Linked DNA regions of Homo sapiens: regions 1, 2, 4 and 5 are each reported to be linked to region 3. The links are microRNA targets in miRTarBase. Many come from high-throughput screens and were not tested one by one. Region 3 holds a microRNA gene; each other region holds the end of a gene's coding sequence.

Region 1 (4,141 bases), not on the chromosome of region 3:
CCCTGGCTGAGCAAGCAGGATAAAGTCATTTCTCCTTCTGCACAACCCCTCCCTGACTCTACCAGCCGAGGGGCCCTGGAAAAGCAGCTGTCCTCAGGTCACCGTGGGGTCAAATTGATTCTCCAGGCAGGGCACTGGCTCCAGGCTGTTAAGGAACTACTAAACTCCGAATTCCCTGGTGAAATACCCATGCAAATTAAAGGTGGGCATTTGCTAACCTGTGGAAGGCACCTCACAGTGAGTCTAGAACCATTATCTGGCCTCCTTTCTGCCAAGCCTAGGAAATCTCCTGTACCCCAGGACACTCAAGTGATCATGAGGGTCTTGGGTGCCTTACCTATCAGAAGGGGCTGGACTCTCAGGAAATCCTGGGGAGAAGGGGCTTCCTCCGCTGTGGCCTGTTTACACCCCAAGTGCCTGCCCAGCTTGTGGGATGTTGTTAAAGGTGGAGCCTGGCATGAGCTGCAGGTCGGAGCTGCCCAGACCAAGTTCCCCACGGGTCCCCACTTTCCCCAGAAAGCCAGCTTTTTTGGTGGGCTCTCCAGCTCCCCATCTAGTGCATCAGAGCAGCTGTGAGCTTTGCCAGCCAACTCCTCTCCGGGGCTCTTCTCTGCGAGTCTGGCAGCCTGTGCAGCCCGTCACAGCCTGGTGTTGTGGACGTGCAGGGCTGCGGGTGTCCTACCTGTCCCCCACATGGGAGCCTCGTCATCTTGCCTTCGTGTCCCAGCCCAGTTCCCCCCTCCCGTACACCCCTAGGGCCTGGGAGCTGCTTTCCTGTTTCATTTTGGGCAGGAAGAGTGAGGTCGTGTTGTTCTTCCCCCTGCTGCCGGCTCAGGCTGTGGGAACGGTTCCCTGAATGCTTTCCTGTTTGATACCCTGTGTGTACAGTGAAGGGAACAGGGAGCGATGAGTGAGGCGTGGAGCGTGTGCGTGCTCCTGTGTCTCTGGCATAAGCACCCAGGTCTGGGGTGGGCATGGTGTGTCTGTGTCAAGGAGAGAGGAAAAAAGGGAGGGCAAGTAGCACTCCAAACCCTTGGACTCCATTAGGAGCAGGGCATCTAATGGGTCTATTTTGCTTTACTGTGGACAGGCTGAGAGCTGGGAGCATCTGCTCAGCTTTTTGTCAGTGGCTCATTTTTTCATAATTTGCTCTCCATGGAGGAGCATATTTTCGGCTATAGAGAGGGCTGTGGCACCCTAGGGACTATCCTGTGCCTTAGAGGAAGCTAGGCATGAAACTCCTAGTGAGACTGGAAACCCCCTCATTAGTGCCTCAGCAAGAGAAACCTGGACTCAGGGAAGGCTACCTCCTCCTCCCCTTTCTCCCTGTCTTTGCAGTCTTCAATAAATTCTAGCAGCCCTGGGCAGACAAGGTGCTCAGACTCTCAGCGCTCTTGTCTGCTACAAAGAGGAAAAACAAGGCAAACCTCCCTCCTGCCCTGTCTCCTGAGACCTGTACCCTGCTGGGGCTAAGAAAAGAGCCAGGCACCCTGCAACAGCAGGAGGAAGGACTCAGATGTCACCAGGGTGCAGAGGCCCTATCCCATCCACCGACGAGAGAATGCTTTTTTTTTTTTTTTTTTTTTTGAGATGGAGTCTCGCTCTGTCGCCCAGGCTGGAGTGCAGTTGCGCTATCTTGGCTCACTGCAAGCTCCACCTCCTGGGTTCATGCCATTCTCCTGCCTCAGCCTCCCGAGTAGCTGGGACTACAGGCACCCGCCACCACACTGGGCTAATTTTTTGTATTTTTAGTAGAGACGGGGTTTCACCCTATTAGCCAGGATGGTCTCGATCTCTTGACCTCGTGATCTGCCCGCCTTGACCTCCCAAAGTGCTGGGATTATAGGCGTGAGCCACCGCTCCCGGCCAAGAGAATCCTTTTGAATATGAGAAAAACAGGCAGAACTAGGGAGCCCCATAAGCTTTTTCAGGCTTGAAGAGAGGAAGGAAGAAGTGATTCAGGTCAGGAGGAACATGCCCCAGGAATGGTGAGGGCATAAAGAGGGAAGGGGGCACTGTACCAACTCAAAGTCAGCAGGCAAGGAAGGCTGGCTGAGGCTGGGGACTAGATGGGTGAGGCTCGGCTCCTCAACGAATGGAAGAAGACAAGGGCCTGGGGTACGACATGCCAAATCCAAGTGTCTGCACGGGTCCCAGGGGTTCCGGCGGGGCACATGGCAGCAGTAGAAGGGAGTTTAGAGTTTTTTGGGTGAGAGGGCAGGGGTACCATCACAAAGACAGGACCCAATAAGTAATAAACTCCTGTACACATCTGTTTCATATTATAAATACACATTATATACAAAATAATGTTATAAAATGTAGAAAGGTCAGTGCTTCTGATTCTTAAATTATTGAAATACTAGACTCCAAAATAAACTACAAAAAAAAAAAAAAAAACAAAATAAAAACTCATATTATTGATTTCTGAAGACCAGCTTTGAGGGTGGTCTGGGGCAGTAGTGGACCAGAGCCCAGGCTCGAGGTTGTGGAGATGGGCTTGAGGGAGGAAAGGGCCCAGGCGGCCGCAGCACCTGATTTCCCCCTCAGTGGAATTTCCAACACACTGCCCTGAGTGCCCCAGTTAGGCCTGGCACCCTTGGCTGGTGGGAGGGGCAGGCCCTCTGCCTGTCTGCTTACAGAAGCCCAGGGCCAGAGGGTGGTGGAAGCCGGGTAGACGGACATTCTTGCCCAAAGGGCCTAGACCAGAGAGCCAGGCCTGCATACAGTAGTTGGAGGCATGGGGCAGAAAGCACTCCCCTCCCTCGAGCACTCACCTCACCTCCAGGGCAAACCCCAGCAAGAGACGCACCCAGTGGTTTTCCAGCCCACAGGAGGCCCTGCCCTCATTGGCCCCCTCTCTCCTTTCTGATTTGGGCCCAACTGTCGCCGTGGAGCCTGGGCCAAAGGCACTTTTGGAAACACGGATGCCAGTGGAGGCCACAGCAGCTCCGGGCCCCATGGGGCTACTGCCACTCTCTCTGGAAAACAGGCCGGAGCCCCGGAAGGAGCCCCCTGAAGGCCACTACTGGCAGGGCAGTGCCCAGTGGCATCTCTCTTCTCTTCTGTTCCTCTGGTTGGTGCAGCTGCCAATCTGATGCCAGACAGACACCCAAAGGTGTGGAAGGGTATTGCATCTCTTGGCAAGTTCACAGTCTGTCCGGTTCCTGCCATTCCCTCCTCCTCCTGAGAGCAGCACGTTGCATATGAAAAACGTCCCATCCAGGATGCAATGTAAACAATGCAGAAGGAAGGTCCAGCCGCGGGGCTGAGCAGGGATGTCCAGGTAGGCTCCTGCCTTATACCTGGGAGCAAGCGGAAGGCAGGGAAACAGGTTACCCTGGGCATGCGCACTCCCTCCAGGCCCTCCCTGGGCCTCCCTGGGAGAAGGCGATGGGGCAGGCAGGGGCTAAGGGCAGGTGGGGCAGTCCTCCCCAGTCTTCGGCCCAACACACACACGGGCCTGGGAGCTTGCGCTCATGAGGTCAATGGAGGAAGCCAGTGGGAAGGGGCAGGAAGGGCACAAGGGGTGAGGGGCCCCCTCACCCATCAGAGGCTGGCCAGCAGTGCCGTGGCTGCCCAACCCAGCACCAATACAGCAGGAAAGGACCAGACCAGGCTTGCCGCCATGGTTCCTGTTTCACACCCTTAGTGGCAATGAGGCCAGCAGGGACCCAAGAGTCCACTGAACTTGGCCTGCCAAGGCAGGGTTCTGACCTACCCTTCAGGAATGGCCCATGGGTCAAGAGTGACCAGGCCACTTTCCCTCCCACAAAAGGCAGAAGGAAAGGCGAGCCCAGCACTCACCTCCGTGGCAATGACACATTCATTCCTCTCCTCTGATATCAAACACACAGACTGGTACATGGAGTCCCTGGGGGAGCATATCGCTGATATCCGACACTCTGGCTTTTCACTGAGGGAACACAAGACAGGCGTGTAAGGGAGGGACGGGGAGAGGCTTGGGGGGAGGGAGGACCCTGGAGAGCCAAAGGGCATCTGCAGGGTGGTTCTTGGGGAAGACACAGGGGCTGGACGTGCCCAGTGCTGGGCTGCTGCAGGGGGGCACTTAGGAAAAGGCCCCTAAGAGAGTCACAGGCCTCCCAACCTCACCAGAAGGGTCTGAGCCCTGCATAAAGCC
Region 2 (4,141 bases), not on the chromosome of region 3:
TAGGATATACAAAAGCAAAAAATATATATGTATATAGTAGAAATAAATCAGCCATAGTAATTTACAGCTTTTGTCTCCAACCCTCCCCTAATCATAATCTTTATCCCACACTTCAGTATATACTTTCTGGGATCAAAGGATCAATTTATTCTGAACCAGGCTGAGAAATATCCATTAAATTGCATTCTGTGTAGCACCCACAGAGTGCCAGTTGGAAATCCCTGAAGGAAGACGGTGTGGGTTGTTACTGTTCTGGGTAAAAAGTGAGACAGTCAAATGACATGTAAATGAATATAAATGGGCAACCTGAAAACCTGAAAGGATGAGGGAATAAGTGTTTTACTATCTCACCACTCTTCTGGGCATCCCCTGCCCTGCAAGTTTTGGTCATCTAAAAAATTTAAAAAACTCATTCAAAAAAATGAAAAAAACTTAGGAAAAAAATTTCAGAATCAATATGCATGTCAGTTAAATTAATTTCTGTTAGCCAAAAGTTCAGGGAAACGGGGTTTTTCTGTAATAAGCTCCTGACTCAAGGAATGTAGGCTCCAAACTTCCTGTGGAAGAGACTGAGTGGCTCACTACTGCTGGGAGACAAAAGAAGCTGCTTCTGTTTTGAGGCCAAACAAGATACTGGATCTGGAGCTTCCTTGGTGTGAAGAGAACAGGGCAAGTGGAAATAATTAGATATAAATTCACTCATGGTAATGCTAATGAATAGGGTTGAGGGTAAACCAGCAGCTTTTCATTCGAGAAAGAAATACCATCAAATTACCTTCTAAAAGCTTATATCCTCAGCATCATTACATTATTTTATATCTGGTAATTTCATACTGGAGAAGATTCCATTCCTTGAAATGCACTAGCAAAATACTGTACATTCCAGTGAGTTATCCTGCCCCTTTCCTCCAAAAGATGCCAAAGTACATGATTACAGACATAAAATAACAGGTTCTGAGTTCTGCCTTTCAGTGAGAATAAAGGGTATGATAGTGGCTGTGCATGGATGACTTGTATCTCAGCGTTAATAGAATTTGATCTGGGGAAAGTTCCTTGCCATAGTTCCTGAGTTGAAAACATAATTACATCTGTGGAGAAAGGACCAAATGGAGTGAACTATTGTTTAGAGTATTAAGTTACTATAGTTCAGATTAAACAACACACTTACCCAAAACTTAATTTGGATGGATTTTATATAAAATATATAATAGAATCATACCATCATCTATTTGTAGCCAAAGTAAAAAGATTTATGAGAAGAATAAGGACTCTGCTATAGATCTGGATGTTGGTTTCACTTTCAAACACAAAAATAGTTTCTTTTTAAAAAAGTACAGTAGAATATCCTCCATTCATAATTGTAATTAATTTAGCATAAGCAAAGAAATGACCTTAGGAACATACCCAGGTTTTAAGATAGATTTCTAGGTAATGGGCCTGAAAGGCATTTTGATCTGAATTTATTTTCCAACGATTTCAAATATAATTTGTCATCTGTGTGTAGACATATACGGGCATGAACACACATTCACCCACACATACAAAAACACTTGCTTTCTATCAGATCAGGGTAATTTTTTTATTGCAGGTCTCTTTTAATATTGGCTAGCAGAAAACCTATCCCCAACCTAACAGATTACACACACACACACACACACACACACACACACACACAGAGCTATTTTTCCACACTTCCTCACAGTGAAAAGCTCTCTAACAAGATACCAGAAGGTCGAGAGAGACAATGCTTTTATGGCTGGGCCTTGAGGACAATTCTGGTTGCATTTAAATCTCAGTGCCAAATGCACTAGGTTCCCTGCCGTTATAATTTTTGGATCAGTCTCTTCTGAAATCAGGTCACAGAGAAAACAGGATGATTTCTCCCAATCTCTCCTATAAAACACTGTGGTAAGACAAGATTTCTTTTTGTTCTGGGCTATCATTCCCATGATCATGTGCTTCCCTTTCCCTTAGGAACCACCCAAGAACATACAAGGAAAAGTTAAGGGAAAACATCATAAGAACCACTGTCTTGCCACTAGCACATGCTTTGGAGGAGTTCTGCAGAATGGAAACCTGAAACAGATTCACTGGCTGATGCTCCTTATTGACAATGGAAAAGAACCTAGTGGGGATGTTCAAAAGAAGTGTATTTCCTTTCAGAATATAAACTCAGAAGCCCACACATCAAAACTTAGAGCTACCTTGGAAGACAGCAGTACCAAAGTCCAAATACTCCACTAACTCCTGAACCTGACTACGAGTCATTTCCTCTTCTGAGCACATGATTTTCCTAGTGAAAGCCCCCTACCTATTATTTGAAAATTTGACAGTTTATACAAACTGAGCCAAGATTATTATCTTCAAAGGGACTCTTGTACAATTCCACTGAAAGACTTCTAATTCTTGATGCTCAGAGCAGCTAATGAAGGGAGATGCCTTTGACTCTCCAGCGCCAAGAAGGTGCCTGCGTCAGTAGTATTTTGAACACTCCCTCCACAGTTACTTCAAGCATCAGCCTGGGCTTCAAGGATTTTTCCATTCTGCTGCTGGAACTAAGGTCCTGAAAAAATTGACAGAAGTGCCTCATCCAGGCAGTAACAAAAACAAAACATGAAGTGATCAGATGAGAGAAGATGAGACGGCAACAGTTGAGTTAGGGAAGGAGTGCAAGAAGCTGATCCCAAACAAAAAGACAAAATTAAGAAAGGAAAAACATTATGTATGTATATATGAACTAAAAGCAGAGCATATGAACGCTTAAGCTGGTGGGAAGCCAAGACAACATCTACAGAAAAGCTTGATGTGTCACAACAAGGCTCAGCCATAGGGAAATAAGGCAATATAAAAAAAATGACCAAGGTATTTTGGTCACAGAATGGTCTTCCTCCTCCCAGCCAACCCCTGTGAATGCATCTCTATATATCTTTATATATATATATATATATATAATAATATAGAATCTGTTTTTTGTTAAAAAGTATTTCAATGATCATATATATTTATCAAGGCATGATGGCTTTAGGAAAGGGGGGGGAATCCATCATGGAAGAGCTGAGAAGAGAAATGCAGGAAGGGTAGGCTGGGGTAAGAAGTGTAAGAAGAAACTGGGGTCAAACAAATGCTCATCAAAGCGTGGCACCAACAGAATTTTCACTAATGTTTCCCACCTTCAAAGAGGCACTGATGATACAGATGGGTGCCGGGACCCCATCTCCTCTCTTGTATCCCTCTCCTGATTCTTCTCAACACCATGCATTTTAATGCTTCATGGCTCTCTCTTCCATGTCTCTTGGACCCATGCTACCTTGCATCCCGGGGTTAAGGGGTATGGCCCATATGTCTCTGGCCCCGGGTGCCTGATCTCAGAAGCCATTGCCACTGATATTAATGGACTGCAGATCTGCCACCTGCATGACGTTGATGCCACTGTTGGCAAGACGGGCAATGCCCTCTGGACAGATGGCCTCCATGGCTACCATATTGGTGGTAATAAGGGCTGAAGGAGTGGCAGTGCCACTGCCTTCTGAACCTGCCCCACTGTCCAGGGGCAAAGTGCCCACACTCAGAGCTACACCTGGGCCTCCCTTCTTATTCTGGTGGGTCTTGATATGTTTTGACAGGTGGTCACTCCTCATGAAGCGCTTAGGACACTCAGGGCAGGCAAATTTCTTCTCACCTAGGTAAAGGAAGAAAAGATAAGAAGCTGACATGTTAGGAAGTGAGGTTACCTTACCCAATTCAGTGCTTACTCTACTAAGCTGAGTAAGGCCAGTATGAGAAGGTGATCAAAAACAAGAAAAATCTTCAAGTGGCTGGGCGTGGTGGCTCACGCTTGTAATCCCAGCACTTTGGGAGGCCAAGGCGGGCAGATCACGAGGTCAGGAGATCAAGACCACGGTGAAACCCTGTCTCTACTAAAAATACAAAAAATTAGCCGGGCGTGGTGGCGGGCGCCTGTAGTCCCAGCTACTCGGAGAGGCTGAGGCAGGAGAATGGCGTGGACCCGGGAGGCGGAGCTTGCAGTGAGCCGAGATCGCGCCACTGCACTCCAGCCTGGGCGACAGAGACTCTGTCTCAAAAAAAAAACAAAAAACAAAAAACTTCAAGTATATTTTCCTTTTGGCGGGGGCGTGAGGAA
Region 3 (4,141 bases):
AGAGGCTCGGCTCAGCCTCGTCTTGGCAGCTGGGCCAGGAGGCAGGGCTCTGTGGGTTTCCCATGTATATTTCTTGATAGGTGAGAAAGTGAGCCCCACCTGTGTGGCTCAGCGGTCAGCACCTAAGGCCGCATCTCCAGTTCCACGACAGAAACACCAGGTCATGTGCATGGGTGGCTGGCGCACACCATCAACACCGTGAAGGCATCTCTTTGCCATTCCTGGTGCCCCCACTGGAGCGGGCGTCTGAACTCTGGAGATTGAGAACCTGGGGGCTCTGGTGGGGCACAGAGTGCCCAAGCCCCTCCCCACTAGATGGCACGGCCGCAGAGGCAGTACGGATGAGCATTCAGCACCCCTTTTCTGGGAGGGTCACCTGGGGCGGGGTGCGAGGACCCCTTTGCCCTGGGCACCTGTTGGACCTGAGTCCGGGTCCCAGCTGTTCTACCTCACACTGAGGTCGTGGTCACCTGTGTGGGTCTGGGTTTTTTGTCCGTGACAAAGGTTGGGACCAGAGGTAGATGGGTTTGCCTGCTCTATTGTTTCATGATGGAAACAATCCTGGTTGGTTGCCTGGTTTCTGCTTGGGTTCCCATTCCTTGCCCCGGCCCTACAGGATCAGTGGAGCACCATAGCCCTGCCTCCTTTCTCTGGCCAGCCAGAGGGCTTCAGAAAAGGCTTATCTAAGCCTGGCTTCTTGCCCTCTGTTCTTGAGGGCCCTGAAGAATTTGACTCTGGCAGATGGCTTCTCTCAGATCAGACACAAAGGCCTTGGAGATTGGGACTCCACACCCATTTCATTGAAACCTGCTCTCCCCCCATCAGAAAAAGGGCCATGTTTTCAAAACCATAACTGCTTCTCTCTTAAATCAACAATAAACAACAGCCTAAAGATTGCCCGTGAAAGTAAGTTCCACTGATGGCCGTTCTGGCCGTTGGAAGCAAGATATCAAGTTGGAGTGTGACCGCAGGCGATCATGCCGCAGGTGAGTGTGTGTGCGCCTGGTTTCATTTCTGTTGTTAATCCTTTGCCCTGTTTTTCTCTTTGTTTTTATTCCAAACCTGTCTGCTCCCAAGGGTCCCTGTCTGCTTCCAAGGGTCCCTGGAACCTTCTGCAGCTGTGCCTCTCCAGAGCTCCGCCTCATTAGTGCCACGTTCCTGGTTTGAAAACCATAGTACTTCAACCTCTTCTAGATGGGAGTTAACCTTTGCCCTCTGAAAGAAAGGTTTGATAAGCAAAGAGAGTTTGGTGAGCAAGATCCTTGAGGTAAGAGCTGATCTCTGACGTCCGCTGGGAACTGGCTGCTCTGCAGGTTTCTGTATCACATTTTCTGCACATGTCCATTAGAATTGGAGATGGGGCGTATCTAGTGTTGAATAAAGGCCCGGCAGGCCCTCCCAGATGCACCCTGTCAGACAGAGCCTACTGTGGATTCTTTAGAAATGGCTTGACTCATTCTTGGTGGCGACCACACCACCCACAGGCACCTAAAATGAAAGGATTTTTGTTAGCTGGTTACCACCAAACCACCTCAGGCAATACGTGGGAGACTCCAAACCAGCTGCTGTTAAAAAAAAAAAAAAGGCAGCAGAGCAGTCATAGAACAGACCCTTCTTACTGCTGCATACAAGATGATCCCATGGAATGCAGGCAGCCACAGCTTTGTCCACATGTGCTCTGTGTATCTGGGGCTGCTAGGCTGGTTAGATTTGTGGTCTTCTTCCTCCTGTGGAGGACCCTAGAGAGAGCCAGCCTGAGCCCTCACCGTTGTTCCTTCCCCGGCAGCACTTACAGAATGATCCTCTAAGACCTCCCCTCCAGCCCTAGCTGGGTTCCTAATTTTCCAGCTATTTAATATCTTCTTTATGTCTCAGTGAATGTTCCCAGGCAGAGTAGCCAGACAGACTCATACTGACAGTTCTCAACAGCCAGTCCCATCCTCCTAAAGATCTCCAGAATCAGCCACATGGACCTGATGCTAGAGGCCTGTCAGCACTGGGGGACCCGGGAGAAGCAGCTCAGGTCTTCAGCAGAAGCAGGGAGGTTCTCCCAGTGGTTTTCCTTGACTGTGAGGAACTAGCCTGCTGCTTTGCTCAGGAGTGAGCTGCCGGCTCCCCTTTGATGTGCTGCGTCTGTTCAGAACTAGGCAGGGGTGCTTCACCGTGGCAGCACTTGAGTTAGGCAGTGGTTCATGGACTCTTCTCCCAGGGCCCCACACAAAACACTGTTAGCACAGACCTGCCACTCAGATCAAGGTGGCCAGCAGAGCCATCAGAGAATAGCCTTCAGAAGATGAATGGCAAGGCCAGCCGGCAGCACGTGAGGCCAGGGCAGAGACGCAGTGAACCGTTCCATGGCGCCCCGAGCCTGCTGCCAAGGCCTCCTTGGAGCTGAGATGGAGGCGGGGTGGCTGAGAGGCAAGCTGGATGTGCATGTTTGGGAAGAGGGCTCCGTAGAAAGTGCTGTAGGGGCCTTGGCTGGGGACCACGTGAGCCCTTGTGCGGAGAGGGCCTGTGTCTGTGGATCTGGGGTCCACCACAGGCCACTGAGATGGGACAGGGCTGGGAGGATTGAGGAGGGAAGATCCTGAGTGAAATTGTGAAATCAGGCCCAGCCTCATGTGGGAGGTGAGGAGAAAGGACCCTTCCAGAGGGCCCCCCCTCAATCCTGTTGTGCCTAATTCAGAGGGTTGGGTGGAGGCTCTCCTGAAGGGCTCTGAAGAGCGCTGCACCCGCAGCTGTGTGCCAGGAGTGGAGACAGGACAGTCGATACAAGAGGGGCCCCTGTCATGTCAGCTGCTGAGTCCCCTGGGGCGGCCGGGCACTGGGGAATGGTGAACTCGCCGTGCCGCGCCTCTGCCACAGTCTCCCGTGGGTCCCCACTGCCGGGAGTTTTACCTACCTCCCACCCTCAGCCACGAGCACCTGCAGGATGCGGTGCCATCCTCGCCGGTGCCCGCTCCCCTTCCGGAGGCTCTCTCCACCCTCACTGACGCCTCCTCGGGAAAGCCCCCGCTCCTTCCCCGACCTCACAGCATGCCAGGTCTGGGGCTTCCGCTGGGGGGCTTACCTGTTTTCCACCCCTGCTAGACTGGGAGCTCCAGGGCAAGGCCGTAGCTGCCTTGCGGATTGTTACGTTGTCCAGCTTGTCTCCACACGTGATACCCAGCAGGTGCCTAATAAACTTGTGTAGAAAGAGTGGTGGATGTTTGCTCTTGTATTTACTCTTCATAGAGCCCAGCTCTGCTTGCTAGAGTCCTCGAAGCAAGTGCGCAGTGTCTGACGGTCTTGGGTTGCTTCTGACTCATGGTGGCTGCTTGGGGGTCATGCTGGAAACATGGCACCCTCAACTCCTGCGTGGAACCAGTTGCCCCCACTGTGATTCCTCTTGCTGCGGCTGGCCCTGCCTTCATGGCATTAGCGCAGCGGGGAGTTGCGGGCTCACTGTCTTAACACCTGTCTCCCCCACCAGACTAAACCCCAAAGGGCAGAACTCTCTCATACACTTAGGACGGAGCAGGTCTCAGGTTATTGCTGGACGGACCAATGGATGAGTGGATGGACAGAGCAAAAAGATGAAAAGACAGGAAGGCAACTGGGGTGTGACAGGCAGGGTGGCCTGACGCTCCCTGTGTGGACAAGACTTGGTGGGAGGTGCCGGGCATGGCTAGGAGGACTTGGGGTGCAAAGTGTCCCCACATCTGTCCTGAGGGCAGAAGCAAGGGTGAGCCTCCCTCCTGCTAGAGCTGGCGGAGTCTCCAAAATAGAGTCCGGACCTGCAGGAACAGTGGCCCTTCCCAGTGCAAGAACGTCACTCAGAGTTGAAAGTTCTGGGGTCTCAGGGACCCCTGAAGTCCATTCTTGAGCCCTTCCCGTGGCTGTGGCCTCCCCTTAGGCAGGGGAAAGGGGGCCAGTGGGGAGCTTCCCCAGGGGCCTCTCTGCAGGAGGCCGCTGGGCACATGGTGGCCCCGCGCTGGGCGCTGTCAGCAGAAGTGCCTGGATCCAGACCCTGGTGGAGACAGCAGGCCAGGAAACCAGTGGCCCCTCTGCCCCCCACTGGGGCCCCATGAGTTACACCAGCCAGGCCCCACAGCTGAGGTACCAGGCGGAAAAGGCCTTGTGTGAATGGGGCAAGAGGCCA
Region 4 (4,141 bases), not on the chromosome of region 3:
CCCATCCCAGTGGTGTCCTGTGGCTGGCTGGCCCCACCTCCCAACGGACAAAAGGAGGGCAACAGGTACCTGGCGGGTTCCACCATCTACTTCCACTGTGACAACGGCTACAGCCTGGCCGGGGCAGAGACCAGCACCTGCCAGGCTGACGGCACCTGGTCCTCACCCACCCCGAAGTGCCAGCCAGGTGAGGACACTCTGCTCATACACCTGCCTGCACCTGTCCCCACTCACCACCCCAGAGAGCCCCCTCACTGACACTCGCTCCCTCACCAGGACGCAGCTACGCGGTGCTGTTGGGCATCATCTTTGGGGGCCTCGCGGTGGTGGCGGCGGTTGCGCTCGTCTATGTGCTGCTGCGCCGCAGGAAGGGCAACACGTGAGACCCCCCAGCCCCTCTCCCAAGACCCCGAGACAGCCGGTGGGACCACCGAGGCTACTTCTAACTGCGTTTCTGTTGCAGGCACGTCTGGGGTGCACAGCCCTGATGGGAGCAGCTTGGCTGTGAGCACCAGGCCAAGACTCCTGAGAACAGGCAGCCCAGTCCTGCGACTCCCGCATCCCCAGGACCAGACACCTGGGACCTGGATACTTGATACCTGGGCATTTAACCCCCTACTCTGTCATCTCAGACCCCAGGCAGGAGGCCCAGTGTTCCAACACCCAAGCCCCGTGCTAGCAGCGCTCCGTGCTCTTCCCCAAATACTCACGGCTCTAATTCCCCAAACCTGAAACTTCATACCCTGGGATTCTAATACCTATGTCCTGAGCCCTGACACTCCCACACCTGAGCCTCAGATTCCAATAGCTCACTCCCTAGAGCCTGACGCCGGGGCCCCTGACCCCTGAGCCTCAGATTCCAATACCTCACTCCCCAGAGCCTGATGCCGGGGCCCCTGACCCCTGATCTACGGAGGCCTGCTCCCGGACCGTGCGGGCACCAGTGCAGTGCTGCCTTGGTTCCTGGACCCCTGGGCCCATCCTGGGACCCCAGATGGGGTAAGGAGAGGCCCCAGAACCCCAAAGCAGACAGCGAGACCCCCAGCGGCAGAGGCCTCCCTCGGCACTCCAGGCTTATAATTTCGAACTCTTCTGGAAGGTCACTCAGGAACACCCTCCCTGCCTGTGCAAAGAGAAAACAAGCGCCTTGTTTCCTTCCCTGGTCTCCTGGTGTTCATGCTGCGCCCTGGTTCTGGAGAGTTCCATGACCGCCTCCCGGGGTCACCACCAACAGTATCCAGAGTGAGGCAGGTCTGAGCCCTGCCTGCTTCCTCCACGAGGTTGCCGGGGATGCTCCCTCCCCAGGCTCTCTCTCCATGTATGCAGTGGGATGGAGAACTGTGGCCGCCTCGTGGGGTGGGGAGGCCGCCAACACAGCACAGGGCTCACTTGGGTCACTCAGGAGATGGAGAAGGACAACCCCTCCCTCAACAGAGGTGCCACCCCCTCACCACGCCCTGGCGTGCTCTGGCAAGCACTGCCCTGCAGCCTCGGCTCCTTGGCTGGGTGCAGTCGCTGGCAGGATCAGTTCCAAGTCCTCAGGAGACCAGCGCCCAGGCTCCTTAGCCCAGGAATGTCCAGAATCTGGGCACAGAGCCCAGGCCTCAGGCCACGGTGGCCCACCTGAGCAGCTCTTTGTCGGCGCTTCCTGTGGGGCCTGGCATGGAGGCACAGACCTGGAAGCAGCTGGAGGATGACCAGGGTCCATCAACCTTTGTGGAGAGGGTCCCGAATGGGGACTCAGGCAGGGTAGCATTGGTCGGGTTTGCCCCTTAGGTCTCAGAGAAAGTGCTGGAGAGGGTGAGGCTGGAAGTTGGGGGCCAGGTAGAGAACACTGGGTGGGGAGTTGAGCCGCCTCAGTGTGACCTGCAGCGCTGGGAGTGGCCATATAGGGGCAGCAGAGGATAGGAACAGCGAGTCTGGGTGGCAGGAGGTTGGGAGGGCAGTCAGCCCTGCCCTGCAGCTGGGTCAGCCGACTTGGTCACAACCGCAGCCAAGGTCTGCGCACAGCCCACCCCTCCGCCTCCCCGCACCTGGGTCATCCCCGCATCTCAGGAGTGTTGAAGAGGTTGCACAGGTCTCCCCAGGTCATTCAGCGGGCACTGACCATGGGGTGGGAGTCCAGGCCTCTCACCTGCTCAGCCTTGCCCTTGGTGAATGGGAGAGCTGGGGAGGCAGAGACATGTCTCATCTGAGGCCTTCCTGGAGGAGGTGAATGTGCATGATGGGGCACGTGTGCGGGAACCGAGCTGAGGGTTGCAGGGCAGGGGTGGCGGGAGGCTAGCGGAGGGGAATGGGGTCTGGCCTTCTCTCTTTCTAGAGCTCACTCCGTTGCTTCCCCATTCCCCTGGGTTTGCACCTCCAGGCATGGTGGGGCTGAGGGTCAGCCCCTTGGCGGGCTGGGCAGGTACTTTCCTCCCTACAGATGAGGTAAGGCAGGGCTCCCCTCCCACTGTCTGAATCCCCAGCGCACCCCTGTGCCACGCCAGGCCTGGGCCGGCCACGTGTCAGTGGGTGAGAGGTCAGTTTCCGGGTCAAGGCCTGGACATGAGGGAGCGGGCACAGGTTTTCAGGGGGCCCAAGAGCGGCAGGGGCAGCTTGGCAGCTCATCAGGTCCACTAGAGGGTGTCCCAGACAAGAGCAGCCCCCGAACTGAGGTCAAGAAACAGGTTGGATTCTCAGAGCTCTGATTGGTTGGACAGGGGTTCCAGATGGACAGGGGTTCTGGGTAGAGGAGCAGTCTATGCAAAGGCTCAGAGAAAGAGAAGTGCAGTCATGTCTGCGGAATGACAGGGGTGGGGGCCAGCCAAGGCCTCCCCTGCCAGGCCAAGGCATTTAGATTTCATCCTAAGAGCAAAGTGTGGCCTGCCTCGGGCTCCCCCACCCCCACCAGTCTCCCTCCAGGATGGGCCCTTGGTCTGCCCCCCCACCTCCCCTTTCCAGCAGGAGAAAGGGTGCCCTGTCTGTGGCCCCAGTCCCAGACATCAGATGTTCCCAGTGCCAGGGGCAGGCCAGGCTGGGAAGCCCCACCACCTGCCAGGGGCTTTTCCTGGGGCCCGAAAGAGATAGAGACAGGGCCTGTGCAAAGGCAGAAGGCCTGGAGCCGGTGCAGACTCTCTAGAGACATCAAAGGCAGGGACCGCTGCCTCAGGGAGATGGTCTCCCAAATAGCAGCCCAGGGCTTGCAGGACGGGCAGCCATGGGAGCTTGCGGGTGGCTTACAGTAGGGTTGAAATGATGGAGTATCAGAGTCACCCAATGGCCGGTACCATCGTGGTGGTACCAGTCAGAGTGGGGCAGATGGTAATCCAGGGCTTTGGAGACACAGGTGATGAGAGAGCTGGGGGGGTCAAACAGGAGCCGATGAGGTACCAGCAGGATCCTAAGACCCACCTTGGGCAGAAGGGCAAAGGGAGGAAGGAATGTGCTATGGGAGCCAGGCCCAGATCCCATGGAAGCGGGCGTCACGCAGGCCTGTGGGCCAAGGGGAGTCACAGAGGTGACAGCCCAGCTGCAGGTCCCCTGCTGGCTAGAGTAGGGAAGCCCGGCTTCTCTGTGCCCCCTGCCCTCCAGCCTCCCACTAGGTCTCCTGTTGGCTGAGCACAGTGGGTGCGGCTGATCTGGGGGCCAGGGAGGGCTCTGACTCGGTACAGTACAGTACAGGCACAGCTGGGGAGCAAGGGACCCCTTCTTCTGCCAAGCTGCTTCCTTCTGCAAGCCCCAGGGTGGCCGAGTGCCTGCTGTGGGCCAGACCTCTGCTAGGCCCATCAGGACACCCCTGTCCTCAGGGTCCAATGCTGCCAAGGAGGAGGCGGGGGGGTCGGTGCAGCGCACTGTAGGAGTGGGAAGTCAAGGAGGCATCGTGGAGGAGTGCGGCTTCCCACAGGCACCCCTTCAGGCTTTCACCAGCTCCCTTTGTTGCAAGGATGTGAGGATGACTGACTTTGGAAGTCATGCCAACCAAGTCCCTGCTGACCTGATCACCCACCCACTACTCTTCCAGGACCAGGAAATAAACTTCTTTTGTGATTAAGCCTTAATATGTTTCAGGGACCATTTGTTGAAGCAGTTAGTTGGTGCTGAGATGGGAAAGAAACTTTTCTTCTGTGAGACAGGGTCTCACTCTGTCACCCAGGCTGGA
Region 5 (4,000 bases), not on the chromosome of region 3:
GCAGGGATCGCAGCCCGGGGACAAAGGGCTCTCGCCTCAAGAAGGTTTAAGTAGCAAAGATACAGCTGCTGTTGGTCAGCGCTGGTGGGCAGGAGGGCAGCCCCTCGTTTTCCTGAGAGAGAGCAGGAATGAGGCCAGGCAGAGTGGCTGGGCTCCCAGTGCAGGGCACGGCAGGGGCTCCATTCAGTGCCCACCTGGCTGCCCCATGCTCTCTGTGGCCAGTGCTGGCTAGGAGGGACCCAGGGACTCGGGAGGGTGGTGGCAGTTCTGACAACATCTGTCTGTCCTGTGACAGCACAGCTGCTCCCCAGGCAGGCTCTGCATCCCTCACCTGCTTTCCAGGTGAACCCTCCAAGCCCAGAGGGCAGGGACTGCACGGGGCCCCACAACTCGGCTGCACTAGTCCACGTCCGCGTCGTCTCTGTCTTGCTGCCTCCTCCGTCCTCTGTCCCCGTGTTCGTGTGTTCACCGTGTGCATGTGTGTATGTGCTTGTTTTGATGCAGGGACCACCCTCAGCTGAAGACTCCCCCAAGTAAGCTTAATGGGCAGTCCCCGGGCCTGGCCCGGCTGGGACCTGCCACCGGCCCCCCAGGGCCCTCTGCCAGCCCTACACGGCACACGCTGGTTAAGAAGGTGTCCGGCGTGGGTGGGACCACCTACGAGATCTCGGTGTGAGGACTGACTGCCACACATCCGCCATGGTGCCACGGGGACCAGGACCCCACAGCGCACCCCCCCTCCCCACCAACTTCTCTGCCCCAGGGACCCGAGGCCACCCCAGCCTGGTGTGGACCCATCGGCGGGAGAGAGTGCCACGCCTCCACAGCTTGCCCCAAGCGCTCTGCCTGCCCGTCCACTCATCTGCCCATGGGGAAGTCGGCTCACTGGGACAAGGGCCACTGGGCTGGTCTGTGTCTGGGCCTGTCCCATGGCTGGGGCAGTGAGGGGGCCCAGTCAGCCTCTTTGGGGCACCCTCTCTCAGCCAGGCTTGGCCCACTGCCATCACCCAGCACCCCAGATCACCGCCAGGCCAGCCCCCAATGGTCCCCTTACGGACAGGTCCCAGAGATGGACAGAGGCACCCAGGGCCCCCACCGTCCTTCTGACACAGCCTGTGGGCTCCCGGACCGAGTGTCCCCCGCCAGGCTACTCCTAACTAACGCGTTGCCTTTCACGGACCCCGCTGGAAGCTTGTAGCTTGGCAAGGCTGATGCTTCTGCCCTGGCCTGCTCTGGGTGGTGGTGGATAGGTGGACAGACGGCCAGCCAGCCAGCTGTGGCCGGGGGCCCGGCTCCATGTGTCCCGTGTCTGTGTGCTGTGCTGCCGCGCCGTGTCTGATGTGTCAGTGCTCCGGCCGCCGCTGTCCCTTTCATCAAAGCCTTAACCTTTGCTTTATGCTCTTGTGGGAGGCGACGGGGGGGCAGGCGGGAGCAGGCACGGGGGTGATGCTGCCACAGGGGGCTGGTGACACCCAGAGCCCCCTCCCCAGCCCTCAGGCCCTCCCTGCCAAACTGGAGAACCCCACCCCAAGGCATGCCACGTCCGCAGCCCCGGCCTGGCTGCGGTGCTCGCGCCGTGGGAAAGCACACTGGGGAGGGGTCAGTGCTTCCCTTGGTGTCAGGGACCTGAGAGTAAGCACATGACAGCGTCTGCTTGCGTTGTGTCTGTTTTATGTTTTTATATCTACATCTATATATCTATAATTTTATTAAAAAAAAGAAAAAGAGTTATTTTGATTCTTTCCTTGGGCAAGGCCAGGGCTATTGCTGCAGGATCCCGAGTTAGGGGAGGGCAGGGGCCGGGCCCCAGAAGAGGGAGTGGCTGCTGTCTGGTGTGCAGGGGTCGGTGGGTTCCTCAGGGGCATTTCTGCCGACTTGGGCTGAGTCAGAGGCTTGGGAAGAGGGGGCGGCCGATGGTCTGTGGCTGGGAAGTGTGAGGGTCTCTCGCCTTGGGTCTGTGTCAGTTCTGGCAGTGACAGGGTGTTTGGGGGAAAGACTTGGGTCTGCCGCTACCCACAGGGGACTCTCAGGAACCCGAGAGCTTGGGGAGATGAAATGGGGGTGCATAGGGGCCACCTGTTGGCTCAGGGCCCTGTGGGGGCCGCTGAACCTGCTGGAACTCTCCTGCCTGCCACATGCCAGGGGCAGGGCTGAGGGAGTGTGAGGGATGCACAGCTGTTCAGGGCTGAGACATTCTGGGCTGGGGCTGTCCCAGCGTGGGAGGCGTGCGGGCTGTAGGGCCCCGAAGCTGACCTCCACCTTTCTGCTTCTCTCTCACGGACGCCGCGGCCCGCAGGGGGCGGATTGGCACCTGCACCCGTGGATGGGGGCGGCGTGGCCAGCCTTGGGTGCCTCCTGGGCTGCACCTGTGCCACCTTGGCCGCCCGGAGGACCGCCCACCACTGCGGGCCCCCTGGAGCCAGGCCGCCGGGGCACCCCCACGCGGGGCCATGTGCCGCCTGCACTTGGCTGCCTCCAGTCTTTTCCCCAGCCTCTCGGGGCCCTAGCAGGATGACAAGTAGGCGGCTCTGGGGCCCAGGACAGCCCAGCTGGGGACCCAGGAGGTCAGACTGCAGTGGACCCTGGGGCAGGGCTGGGGGTGGGCTGGGCTCTCTGCTCCACCAGCCACAGCTTGACAGATTCCCAGCCTGCCAGGGCCTGAGACCCTGTGTCCACATGACCTCAGGGAGTCCCCCACCTGCTGCAGGGGGTCCAGCACCCCACAGGGGGGCAGTCCCAGAGCTGTGGGGACCGGCACGACCTTTGCCCAGCCTCCCTACCCAACCAAGCACTTTAGACTAAGCCACTTCCTCCTCGGGGAGCCCAGGCCTCCGTGGGTTGGGCTGGGTGGGGGGGGGGTCTCAGGTTGCCCCTGAAGGTCTCTGCACTCCTCCTGCCCTTCCCCTGACACATGAACAGATGCCTTAACTTCCTGGAGCCACCAGCCTGGTGAGCCATTGGCCTCTGCCTGCCACCAAGGTCCTGTGGTCTTGGCCAGCTCCGCCTGGGCCCCACTGGGGCTGCCTGCACCCAGAGACGATGCCGGCGGGATCTCAGAGGGCCTGAGGCCCAAGCCCTGTGTCCTCCAGCAGTGGTACGGCCTGCGGCAGGGTGGCACTCCGGCCAGCCCTTCTCCGTCACAGGGTCCCTGTCCCTGGGTCCACCCTGGGCTGTGGCTCTACATCTCCCATTTGGGGACGAGAAAGCCACAAAACCATTCTCTATTGTTCTTAAGGGTACCCCTGCTAATTAATTCCCCAAATAAAATTTTTGGTGTTGATCAGCTCTGTCTACCAATGTGGTCCCCTGGACCGGACAGGGCCCTGGGTTGGGGAGGTGACAGGACCTGGGCAGGGAGGGTGGTGGCCAGGAAGGGAGGGGAGTTGCATGAGGGGCATGAGGTCAGTGGATCAGCAGGTTCAGCGCTGAAAACCTGACCTCTGAGGTCCCTGGGAGGGCCTGGCCCAGGGGGCAAGACCTGAGGACCCCCCAGTCCTTACTGCTGTTGCCTTTCAGTGGAGACCCTCCTAAGACGCCTTGGGGGGTCAGAGCCCCGTGCAGAGGGGCTGCCTTCTGGAGGGCAGGTAGGATGTGGGGTGGGAAGCCGGCCCTGAGCTGGGGTCTCCACCCTGAGGGACCCTCGCTGCAGGATCGCCTGGGCATCCCTCCCCCAATTTCCACAGAGACGTGCTCACCGGCCACTTATGTCATGATTCTATGTCCAGCCACAGGCCCAGCCCTCAGGACAGACCCCACCTCCACCCTTCTCTGCAGCTTCTGGCAAGGATGGTGCACAGTGGTGCCATGTGCAGGGGGCTGGCACGGCCACTGGGCATCCGGGGCAGTGCTGGTCGCCTGGCCTCCTTGCTGGGGCCGCTGGGCCTCTGGCCTAGAAGGGCAGGAAGCCGTCCACTTTGAGGCGCAGGAAGGGGTCCAGCAGGGCCCGGAGCTTCCAGACGGTGGCACGGCTCAGCAGGGGTGGCACCAGCCCCTCGAAAGG

Evidence for each region. The annotated mature microRNA hsa-miR-296-5p reads AGGGCCCCCCCUCAAUCCUGU and lies in region 3 at 2,652-2,672, shown strand. An mRNA with a match to its seed (bases 2 to 7 or 8) in the 3' UTR can be bound and repressed. Matches are read on the target gene's strand: a 7mer-m8 pairs with bases 2 to 8, a 7mer-A1 pairs with bases 2 to 7 and ends in A, and an 8mer does both.
Region 1: the mRNA of DLL4 is a reported target of hsa-miR-296-5p. Seed matches in the 3' UTR shown: 7mer-m8 at 2,954-2,960 and 7mer-A1 at 2,875-2,881.
Region 2: miRTarBase lists SP1 as a target of hsa-miR-296-5p. The part of its 3' UTR that is shown has no 7-base or 8-base seed match.
Region 4: miRTarBase lists SUSD2 as a target of hsa-miR-296-5p. Seed matches in the 3' UTR shown: 7mer-m8 at 832-838, 7mer-m8 at 890-896 and 7mer-A1 at 974-980.
Region 5: miRTarBase lists ZDHHC8 as a target of hsa-miR-296-5p. Seed matches in the 3' UTR shown: 8mer at 947-954, 7mer-m8 at 1,284-1,290, 7mer-m8 at 2,498-2,504 and 8mer at 2,531-2,538.

What each region holds. Positions count from the first base shown.
Region 1 is chr15:40,937,193-40,941,333 of GRCh38, reverse strand. DLL4 (delta like canonical Notch ligand 4) reads right to left here. Exons shown (of 11, transcript NM_019074.4): 10 at 3,808-3,916; 11 at 2,261-3,305. The coding sequence ends at 3,300. Among named protein-coding and RNA genes, the nearest start is that of DLL4, 9.9 kb to the right of the region's middle. RefSeq lists enhancers at 975-1,034, 2,317-3,133.
Region 2 is chr12:53,410,465-53,414,605 of GRCh38, reverse strand. It overlaps SP1 (Sp1 transcription factor), which reads right to left. Exons shown (of 6, transcript NM_138473.3): 6 at 1-3,679. The coding sequence ends at 3,366. Among named protein-coding and RNA genes, the nearest start is that of AMHR2, 11 kb to the left of the region's middle.
Region 3 is chr20:58,816,192-58,820,332 of GRCh38, reverse strand. It overlaps MIR296 (microRNA 296), which reads left to right and starts at 2,639; the gene lies at 2,639-2,718. MIR298 (microRNA 298) reads left to right here and starts at 2,020; the gene lies at 2,020-2,107. It also overlaps GNAS-AS1.
Region 4 is chr22:24,187,949-24,192,089 of GRCh38, forward strand. SUSD2 (sushi domain containing 2) reads left to right here. Exons shown (of 15, transcript NM_019601.4): 13 at 11-187; 14 at 277-379; 15 at 464-1,158. The coding sequence ends at 488. Among named protein-coding and RNA genes, the nearest start is that of SUSD2, 8.5 kb to the left of the region's middle. RefSeq lists an enhancer at 1,625-2,266.
Region 5 is chr22:20,144,725-20,148,724 of GRCh38, forward strand. It overlaps ZDHHC8 (zDHHC palmitoyltransferase 8), which reads left to right. Exons shown (of 11, transcript NM_013373.4): 11 at 505-3,283. The coding sequence ends at 676. It overlaps CCDC188 (coiled-coil domain containing 188), which reads right to left. Exons shown (of 9, transcript NM_001365892.2): 9 at 3,692-4,000. The coding sequence ends at 3,890. Among named protein-coding and RNA genes, the nearest start is that of CCDC188, 4.3 kb to the right of the region's middle. RefSeq lists silencers at 2,283-2,402, 2,443-2,512.